3 separate regions of the Homo sapiens genome follow, and regions 1 and 3 are each linked to region 2. Evidence: fine-mapped expression QTL. A gene starts in region 2. Each other region holds a variant in brackets. All regions are shown on one strand. Distances are between the middles of the regions.

Evidence for each region. PIP is the estimated chance that this variant, and not a neighbour inherited with it, causes the effect.
Region 1: its variant is the best candidate, but not a certain one, in a credible set for the expression of SMG6 in monocytes after LPS (Quach 2016, PIP 0.84).
Region 3: its variant is the best candidate, but not a certain one, in a credible set for the expression of SMG6 in whole blood (TOPMed, PIP 0.52).

The regions. Positions count from the first base shown.
Region 1 is chr17:2,060,759-2,063,514 of GRCh38, forward strand. It overlaps HIC1 (HIC ZBTB transcriptional repressor 1), which reads left to right. Exons shown (of 2, transcript NM_006497.4): 2 at 1-2,483. It overlaps SMG6 (SMG6 nonsense mediated mRNA decay factor), which reads right to left. Exons shown (of 19, transcript NM_017575.5): 19 at 1-864. The coding sequence ends at 734. Among named protein-coding and RNA genes, the nearest start is that of HIC1, 7.0 kb to the left of the region's middle. The variant C/T (reference allele first, on the strand shown) is at 1,242.
Region 2 is chr17:2,302,513-2,305,268 of GRCh38, forward strand. SMG6 (SMG6 nonsense mediated mRNA decay factor) reads right to left here and starts at 1,273. Exons shown (of 19, transcript NM_017575.5): 1 at 1,121-1,273. The coding sequence starts at 1,208. SRR (serine racemase) reads left to right here and starts at 1,438. Exons shown (of 8, transcript NM_021947.3): 1 at 1,438-1,505. RefSeq lists enhancers at 1-345, 675-1,401 and silencers at 903-1,112, 1,303-1,522.
Region 3 is chr17:2,221,205-2,223,960 of GRCh38, forward strand. The region is part of intron 10 of SMG6 (SMG6 nonsense mediated mRNA decay factor); the gene reads right to left. Among named protein-coding and RNA genes, the nearest start is that of SMG6, 81 kb to the right of the region's middle. The variant A/G (reference allele first, on the strand shown) is at 1,505.

The sequences.
Region 1 (2,756 bases), 240 kb before region 2:
CTGAGACCAGATGCCCCTTTCCTCTAGACTCATGACTGTCCACGGGGACGCAACTGGCGAAGTGTGAGGGACCCAGGTTGATAAGGGCAGGAAGAGGAGCAGCAGGAAGGGTGTGTGGTAAGTCTGGGGTGGATGGTAGAAGAGGTGGGGGCCCAGGGCTGCTGTTAGGGACATGCTGTCTAGAAGCCGACTTGGGTTCATGGGCGAGTCCAGGCCTCAGGGAGACTGGGGACACACACCCTGGGCACTTCTTCCTGACTTAACCAAAGCCTCTTGAACACATTCACGACAGAGGTTCTGAAGATGAAAGGGAACTGTGATTTCACTGCATCTGACGGAAACTCAGAACCCCTGCCCTGTCTCCACTGGAGAAAGTGGCTGCGTCCCCAGGCGAGAAGGCCCTCCCTCAGCCTTGGAATGAGACGGGGGAGGGAGAAAGGCTGAGAGCATGGGCGGCCTATCTGGCTTGCCCAGCTGCTGTTGCTGTAGCCAGCCACCTCCCTGCTAAATCCTGGCAGCCCAGGAGGGTCCCAGCAGCTTCCGCCCGATCCTTGGGAGGGGCTCTGTGAGGAGCAGGTCCCCCACAGCATGGCCGTGGCGTGGGTTGGAAGAGGATGGTTTATTGTCTGGGTGGATTGGTGGCTCAGGCACGTGGGCATCTTCCGTGCTACACTGGGCGCCTGGTGGCCTTTCAGGAACGGTTCCACGGGGGGGGGGCCCCAGTGTGGCTCCCTCAGCCCACCTGGGCCCACGTGAGGAAGGCTGGGATGTCCCGTACAGGAACATTCCTTGTGAGCGCCTTCACACGCAGGTTCCGGTCATCCGTCAACAGCACCACCTCCCGCAGTAGCCGGATTGGCTCCTCTGTGGGCATGAGAGAGCAGAAGGCTGTCACTGAGGACAGGAGGCAGAGGGCTGGCTGCTCTTCTCACCCTGGAGAATGTGGTCCTGGGGAGGGGGTGCCACGCTAGCCGTGTCTTGGCTCTTCTACCAGTCCTTTCCTCCGTCCGGGCTCTCAGCCCCGGGGACCCTCCCCTGCTGGCCTAGAGAGGGCTGCACTGGGCTTCTGCCTTGACTCCGGCCTCCCATACAGGACTCTCTTCTGCCTAGTTCCCAAAAGCTGCCCAAACCCGTCAGCCTCCCAGGACCCTAAACTGAGGGAATAGAAGCAGCCCCTTGACCTCTACTCCTTTTTACCACATGGCTGGCCCCCAGATCACAACACCGCTCTCCCCACACCC[C/T]ACTTTTTTTTTTTTAACAAGTCCTCTCCCTCTAAAAGCCAGCAGGTTGAAGCTTTACGCATCCAGAGGCAGAAAACTAAAGATGGAACAGAAAATGTATCCAGGGTTTTCCAGATGTGGGGAGAGGGGTTAAGGGAGCCCTGAGGAGAGGAGAGGGTAAGGGTCTTGGCAGAATTGTGCCAAGGGCACACCAAGGCTTTGGCCAACCGGTCGCCCCTGCTAAGTAACAGTAATCCATGTATACAGGCGAAAGTCTCTAAGAGGACAGAAGAGTAAAAAGGAAGAGTAGAGTTAAGATGATGATCCCAGTTCTCCGTCTTGTACCCCAGGGAAGACCTGTGTATCCTTCCAGGTTTCTTTAGGCACATTTACAAGTACATACACTTGGACATATAACCTTTTTTTCCTACAGCATCATGATCATATTAGCCACACTTTCAGAGTATATACTTAAAAGGTCTTGCTATAGTGGCACAGATATCTTTCATTCTTTTTAGATGACTTTTTTTTTTTTTAAGCACAGTCTCTCCACTACCTCTCTTTCCCTAACTCCCTAATCTTTAACACATTGGAGAGAATTTAAGCCAGGGACAAGCACTCACACAAGTGACATCCCTACCCTGACAGGCCTGCTTGGGTGGCAGGTCTACTCGTCAGTCCCAGGCTGGGCATTTCCTGACAGAGGTCCAGGTCCGGCAGACAGCAAGGCACAGGAAGTGTCCTGCTGTGCTCACTGACTGCGTGGGCTGGCGGGGGTGGGGGGCTGCAAATATCCATGTCGGACCTGAGCAGTCTCAGGCTTGCCAGCTCCAGGCAGGGAGGCTGAGAACTGGCTTTCAGCCTGGGGAGGAGTTTGGAGGATTCGGGAGGGAGAGGTTTGTGGGGTTGGTGGTGGCGAGAGAAGAGGACAGGAGGAAGGAGAGTGTGAAGGGAGGCAAGGGGCTGTGGGCAGAGGGGAAAGGAAGGTGGCCTCGGGTGAGGGGATACTCAGAGACTACTCAGCTGCCTGGGCCAGGCCCCTCTGCAGATAAGTGTGGCTGGGGTGGTGGTATGCAGGGCTGTGTGGGGCTCCCAGCTGACTGGCTGCGTCTGTAGCAGCCCCACTATTCCTGCCCTGGGCCTCAAACCAGGAGCGTCCCAGGCCTTAGGTCAGCTAACCAAGGCCCGACATTGCTGGCAGGGGTCTGCAGGGGTTTCTGTGGATACTTTGACATTTTTCACAATAAACATCCTCTGTTTTGACACTGGTAACTTCACTTTGTTAGAAACCAGAGACTGTCATCTTGTCAGGCCCCATCCGCCATAATCCACATGATTTTAAAATTCAACATCGTTTACACATAAACATTTAGTGACGGTTTCTCTGTGAATCTGACAAGTTAATCTGCTAAGAATTCACACTGACAAATGGGCTTTGATTACACCAGCCATTGCTGATGTCATTCTGATAGGGGCGGTCCCCCGGATGGCAATGGGTTCCTGTAGGCTGTTTGGGGTGAAGTCGGGGGTGGGAGG
Region 2 (2,756 bases):
CCTGGGCGACAGAGCTAGACTCCGTCTCAAAAAATAATAATAACAACAATAAAAAAGTTTTTAATCCTAGTATTGCTCTCTAAATATAAATGGAAACAAGCCCAAAACAGGAATCATATGCTCCAGCAAGTACATTTACTGTTTGTAGGTGTAAGGAAAAGGGGAAGAAAAGAGACTGAGGTTTTGGATAGTGCTTCACTATTTTCATAAGTTTAAAAGGTAGGTTCATGAAGTATCCACAAAGATAAAGCAGTTTAACCCAAGAATAGCTCACCCTCGGCAGTCTGTAACTTGGTGGGGGGCGGGGGGATGGGGAAAGCTATTCCTACTACTTTCTAGAGCAGCGGGAGAAAATAGCCTTAATAATCCAATTATGTTAATCAACAAAAACCAATTTCACAGACTGGCCGCAAACCTAGAGAAGGCACCTATCACAGCTACCATTCTACACAACTCTATTGCCTAACGCAGGAGAGGTGAGACACTTAGAATCTTTCTTACTTTCCTGACGTGGCTGGAGACTTGAAATTAACTTGCAAATTGAGCATTCTCTCTAATAAAAACTGCTCCCACACATGCCAGGGCCAAACCCGAGTAGTCTGAGGTCCCGGATCCCTCCAGTGGCGCAGCTTTCGGAAGCCTGTCTTGGGGGGGAAAAGTTCAGCAACGAAGTCGCAGGCTCTTAAACCTTTCTCCCCAATTCCTTCTCTCCGACGTTAAAGCGGTGGCCGGGGCAGGCCCGCGGAGGGCGGCCTGGAGAGCGATACGCCCGGGGCCTCCACCAGACCCCACTCCTTTCCGCGTCTCCCGATGCCTGGGAATCCGGGGCGGGTCTGAGAGGGCTGGGGCAAAAGGAACAGTCACCTTCGCGGCGAGAAAGAGGGTGGAGGCAGGAATTCGGGCCAGGCTCTCCCGGAGCTGGCCAGGACTGGCCGAGCCCGACCCCGCACTAACCCGCGAGAGAGGTAGGGCAGCGAGGGTCCGCCGCGGCCCCAGCGCCTACTGCTGGGGGAAGGGGCGGGGGCTCCGGAGCCGAGGGCCGAGCGGGGAGGAGGCAGAGGAGGAGGAGAGGGAGGCGGGGCGGGCAGGCCCGGCCCAGGAGCTGGGCGGCGCGACTCACCTCTGCTCCCGGCCTGCGGGGCCAGAGTAGCCAGGATCCCGCGCAGCTCCGACGCGGAGATCCGCACACGCTCCAGCCCTTCCGCCATCTTCGCGGCTGCTGCTACAGCCGTAGCGGCTCCGCCACCGCCGCGCGCAGCCAGGAAACCACCACAGACGGGCGGCGCGCGCGCTCGCCCACCTCCCGGCCTTTCCCCGCCCCCTGCCGCCCTCCCTTTCCGAACGACGGTGGCCGCGCTGGGAGGAAAAGCGCCCGCCGCCGGTTCCAGAGGGGCGGGACCGGAGCGAGAGCCTGGGTGGGGCGGGCGGGCGCTGCGCGTGCGCAGAGGTGCGGCCGGGGAGGCGCGCGGAGGCTGGAGCTGGAGGCGCGGCGCCGGTGAGCTGAGGTGAGGCGAGGCCGGGCCGTGCCAGGCCAGGCGGGCGTTTGCGGCGGTGGCTGCCGTTGCTGTTGTCGTGGACACCAAGGACACTGCTAGTCTGGGACTCGGGTTGACAGAGACACCCCTCAGCCTGGGCTCCTCTGGACACCTTAGGCCAGGCTCTCCCGCCACAGGCCCGGCCTAGCGCCGCGGGCCATTACTTGGGACCTTGAAGATCTGCTAAGAGTAGTTGTTACTATTCCCTTTTTTTTTTAGTTGGAGTCTCGCTCTGTTGGAGACTCCCGGGCTGGAGTGCAGTGGCGCGGTCTCGGCTCACTGCAACCTCTGCCTCCTGGATTCAAGCGATTCTCCTGCCTCAGCCTCCCTAGTAGCTGGGATTACAGGTGCACGCCACCAAGCCCGGCTAATTTTTGTATTTTTTGTAGAGACGGGGTTTCACTAGGCTGGTCTCGAACTCCTGACCTCAGGTGATCCACCCGCGTCGGCCTCCCAAAGTGCTGGGATTACAGGCGTGAGCCACCGCGCCCGGCCGCCCCCTGACTTTTAAAAACTAGATACGATATAGTTGGAATCGTGTGGAAGGAAGTACATCAGGAGGCATATAAGTCCATTTGGGACCTGTAATCCCGGCGACTCGGAACGCTGAGACGGGCGGATCGCTTGAACCCGGGAGGCGGAGACTGCAGTGAGCCGAGATCGCGCCACTGCACTCCAGCCCGGGAGTCTCCAACAGAGCGAGACTCCGCCTCAAAAAAAAAAAAAAGTCAATTTGGGAATTTCTGTGTCACTATGGATTCTTGAAAAAAATTACTGCTGTGGATCTCAGGTTGACTTTTTAATTTCCCATCTTTAAAATTGAACTATACCAGAAGGCTGGTACTTGAATCTTTTTTTGGAGAACTGTACAGAGGTGAAGCTCCCTTCCCCAAGGCCTCCTGCCTCCACCTGTTGCCCCTCCACAGCCCCATAGGCTTTTACCCCACACCCATCACAGAATAGTTACCAATTATTCCTTAGTCTGAGCCGAAGGGATTGCCACAACCTCTGACAGAACTCCTTCAGTTCCTTTTACGTGACACTTTGTCACCGGAAGGTTAAGCATAAGAAGAAAGTCAGTAGATGATGGGTGAAAAGATCCAACAGTTCAGAAGAGGAACCATTTGAGTGGTCAGAGCAGAAGACAGCCTTTGCCACCAGATTTGAGAGAAATAGGAAGAAGCGTTAAAAAATAATCTGTTTCATATTGAAATTTGAGAG
Region 3 (2,756 bases), 81 kb before region 2:
TTTCCAGTGCTGGAGGTGGGGCCTGGTAGGAGGTGACTGCATCCTGGGGTGGTTTCTGATGGTTTAGCACCATCCTCCTGGTGCTATCTCCTGATGGAGCTCTCGGGACATCTGGTTGTTTTAAAGTCTGTAGCCCCTCCCCCTTCACTCTCTTCCTCCTGCTCCAGCCATGGAAGACGTGCCTCCTTCCTCTTTGCCTTCCACCATGATTGTGATTCTCCTGAGGCCTCCCTAGCCATGTTTCCTGTACAGCCTGTGGAACTATGAGCCAATTAAACTTCTTTTCTTTATAAATTACCCAGCCTCAGGTATGTCTTTATGGCAGTATGAGAAAGGATTAATACAACAGTAGATACCAAAGCACATTTAATGGATTTTACTTTAATGCCAGATGTAAAATATGCATTTGGAAATTATGCTTTCAAGAAAGTCACCTTAACAAAAAACAAGGAAAGACAGTAAGATTATGAGCAGTAACCTAGTTAACAGATGCCCCTGCCCTTGCCATTCAATCTTCATTGTCCAGGCTGACCTGCTGACAGATTATTCTTTTTTTTGAGACGGAGTCTTGCAATGTTGCCCAGGCTGGAGTGCAATGGGGTGATCTCGGCTCACTGCAAGCTCCACCTCCCGGGTTAACGCCAGTCTCCTGCCTCAGCCTCCCAAGTAGCTGGGATTACTACCATGCCTGGCTAATTTTTGTATTTTTTAGTAAAGACAGGGTTTCGCCATGTTGGCCAGGCTGGTCTTGAATTCCTGAGCTCAAGTGATCCACCTGCACTGGCCTCCCAAAGAGCTGGGATTACAGACGTCGGCCACGGCACCTGGCCTCAAATTATTCTTTGACTTGAACTTGATATAACGCATGTTTACTGAGAAGTTACAACAGGTCAGGGACTGTTTTAGATGTTCACAATGTATCAGTGGATAAAACAGACCAGAGACCCCTATAAGCAGGGAGCTTACATTCTTGCAGAATAGTAGAGGAAAATAAATAATAAACATATACACATTAATTATCTAGTATTTAGAAAATAAATCAATAGAATTGGAAGATAAAGAGTGCAGGTTTGGAGTAGAATGCAGCAGTGTTAAATAGGATGGTTGGGGCAGGTCTCACAGAAGTAACATTAAGCAAAGACTTATAGGAGGCGAGGTATTCACCAGACAGATGGCTGGATGCAGAACATTCCAAACAGAGAAAACAGCTAATGCGAAGGGCCAAAGGTGGGAGAGTCCCCAGCTTAGCAGAGAACTTGCAAGAAGGGTAGTGTGGCTGAAGCAGAGTAACCAAGCCATGGGGAGAACAGTCGTGAATGAGCTCAGAGAGAGGCAATGCGGGGGCGGGGGGGGGGGGGGGGGGCAGGAGAAGAGGTCCATATATGAAGGCCTTGTAAATAATGTGGCTTTTACACTGAGTGAAATGGGAAGTCAGTGAAGGATTTTGAACACAGCAGACTCTGTATGTAATGTGTCTGTGTGTGCATGTTTGGGAAGGAACGAG[A/G]GAGGTAAGGGGTACAAAAAGAGACCACTTAGGAGTTTCAAGACTTTCTTTCCAAGTTTAAAAAGAAGTTTTATCCACAAGGGGTATTCAGGCCATGTTTGCAAACACAGGTTTTCTCTTCCAATGAGGAATATTGAAGAATGTGTCAATGGCCTACAACTGTATCCCTAGCAGGCATCTGAAAAATAATACTTACGAAACATTTTCCTCTGCTCATTGCCCTGACATGAGTTCTGGGCATCACCCTCTCTCAGGGGAGAGGTGAAAAGAGGTTATGTGGAACAGACAGTGATAACAGGATGACGTCACAGGTGTGCCTCAAAGAAGTCCCTGGTGAGCTGGGCTCATAACTACTCTGCAGTGATTTATTCGACCCTGCCAGCTCCAGCTGGAGAAGAGATGCAGAAAGCTGACACAGCCTAAAGCCCTGGGCAGGCATTATAAGATCTTTCTCCCTGCAGTCCCCTGCCAGCTCCTCCCCTCTTTCAACCACTGATCCTTGCCTCAGAAGCCAAAGTGTGAACAGCACGTGTCCGGATTTCAGAAACCTGCCCAGCAGTTGGAAATTCCCTGCAGCGTGTCAACTGCTACATCTGCTGTTGGCACTTGGGGCAAAGGGATCACACGCGCATATTTTCTGAACATAAGCTTCAAGATATGAGTCTTATATTTGAAGAGGGGACTAAACAAGCCAGAACACTCCAATTACAGTAAATGCATTCCTAAATAGACGACAATCTGCCTTCTGAAAAGGAAACTGAGACATACAAGCAAACCGAATAGCACTAAGAACAGCAGTAGTCAAGAACAAAAGCACAGAGAACCCTGACTAATGGAAAGGATTTCATGGGCCAGCAAGGTTCACCAGATATATAATGTGATGTAGCTGAAACAACAGAGTACTCTTTTCCAAATCTCTAACTCACATCTTTTTGTCAATAAATGGCTCCTATCACTTCAGCTGCAGCCTTTCCTCTCCACTCCTTTGATCTTTCTTCCCCACCCAATTAGCCCTCTAAGTGATATTCTATACACTGGACACCTCTTGGAAAAATGAAAAAATGTGAGCCCAATGACACCATTTGCCATAAGACTGAGCTGTAAATGGGCAGGAGCTGGAAAAGAAACTAATCTTTGGAAGAGCAAACTACATGCCCTTGCCACCCTGGATGTAGGTGCCCAGTCACACTGCTCATGGGCATCACAGGCAGAGCAAAAAAAAAGAAAAGAAAAGAAAGAAAGTCTGAGTAAG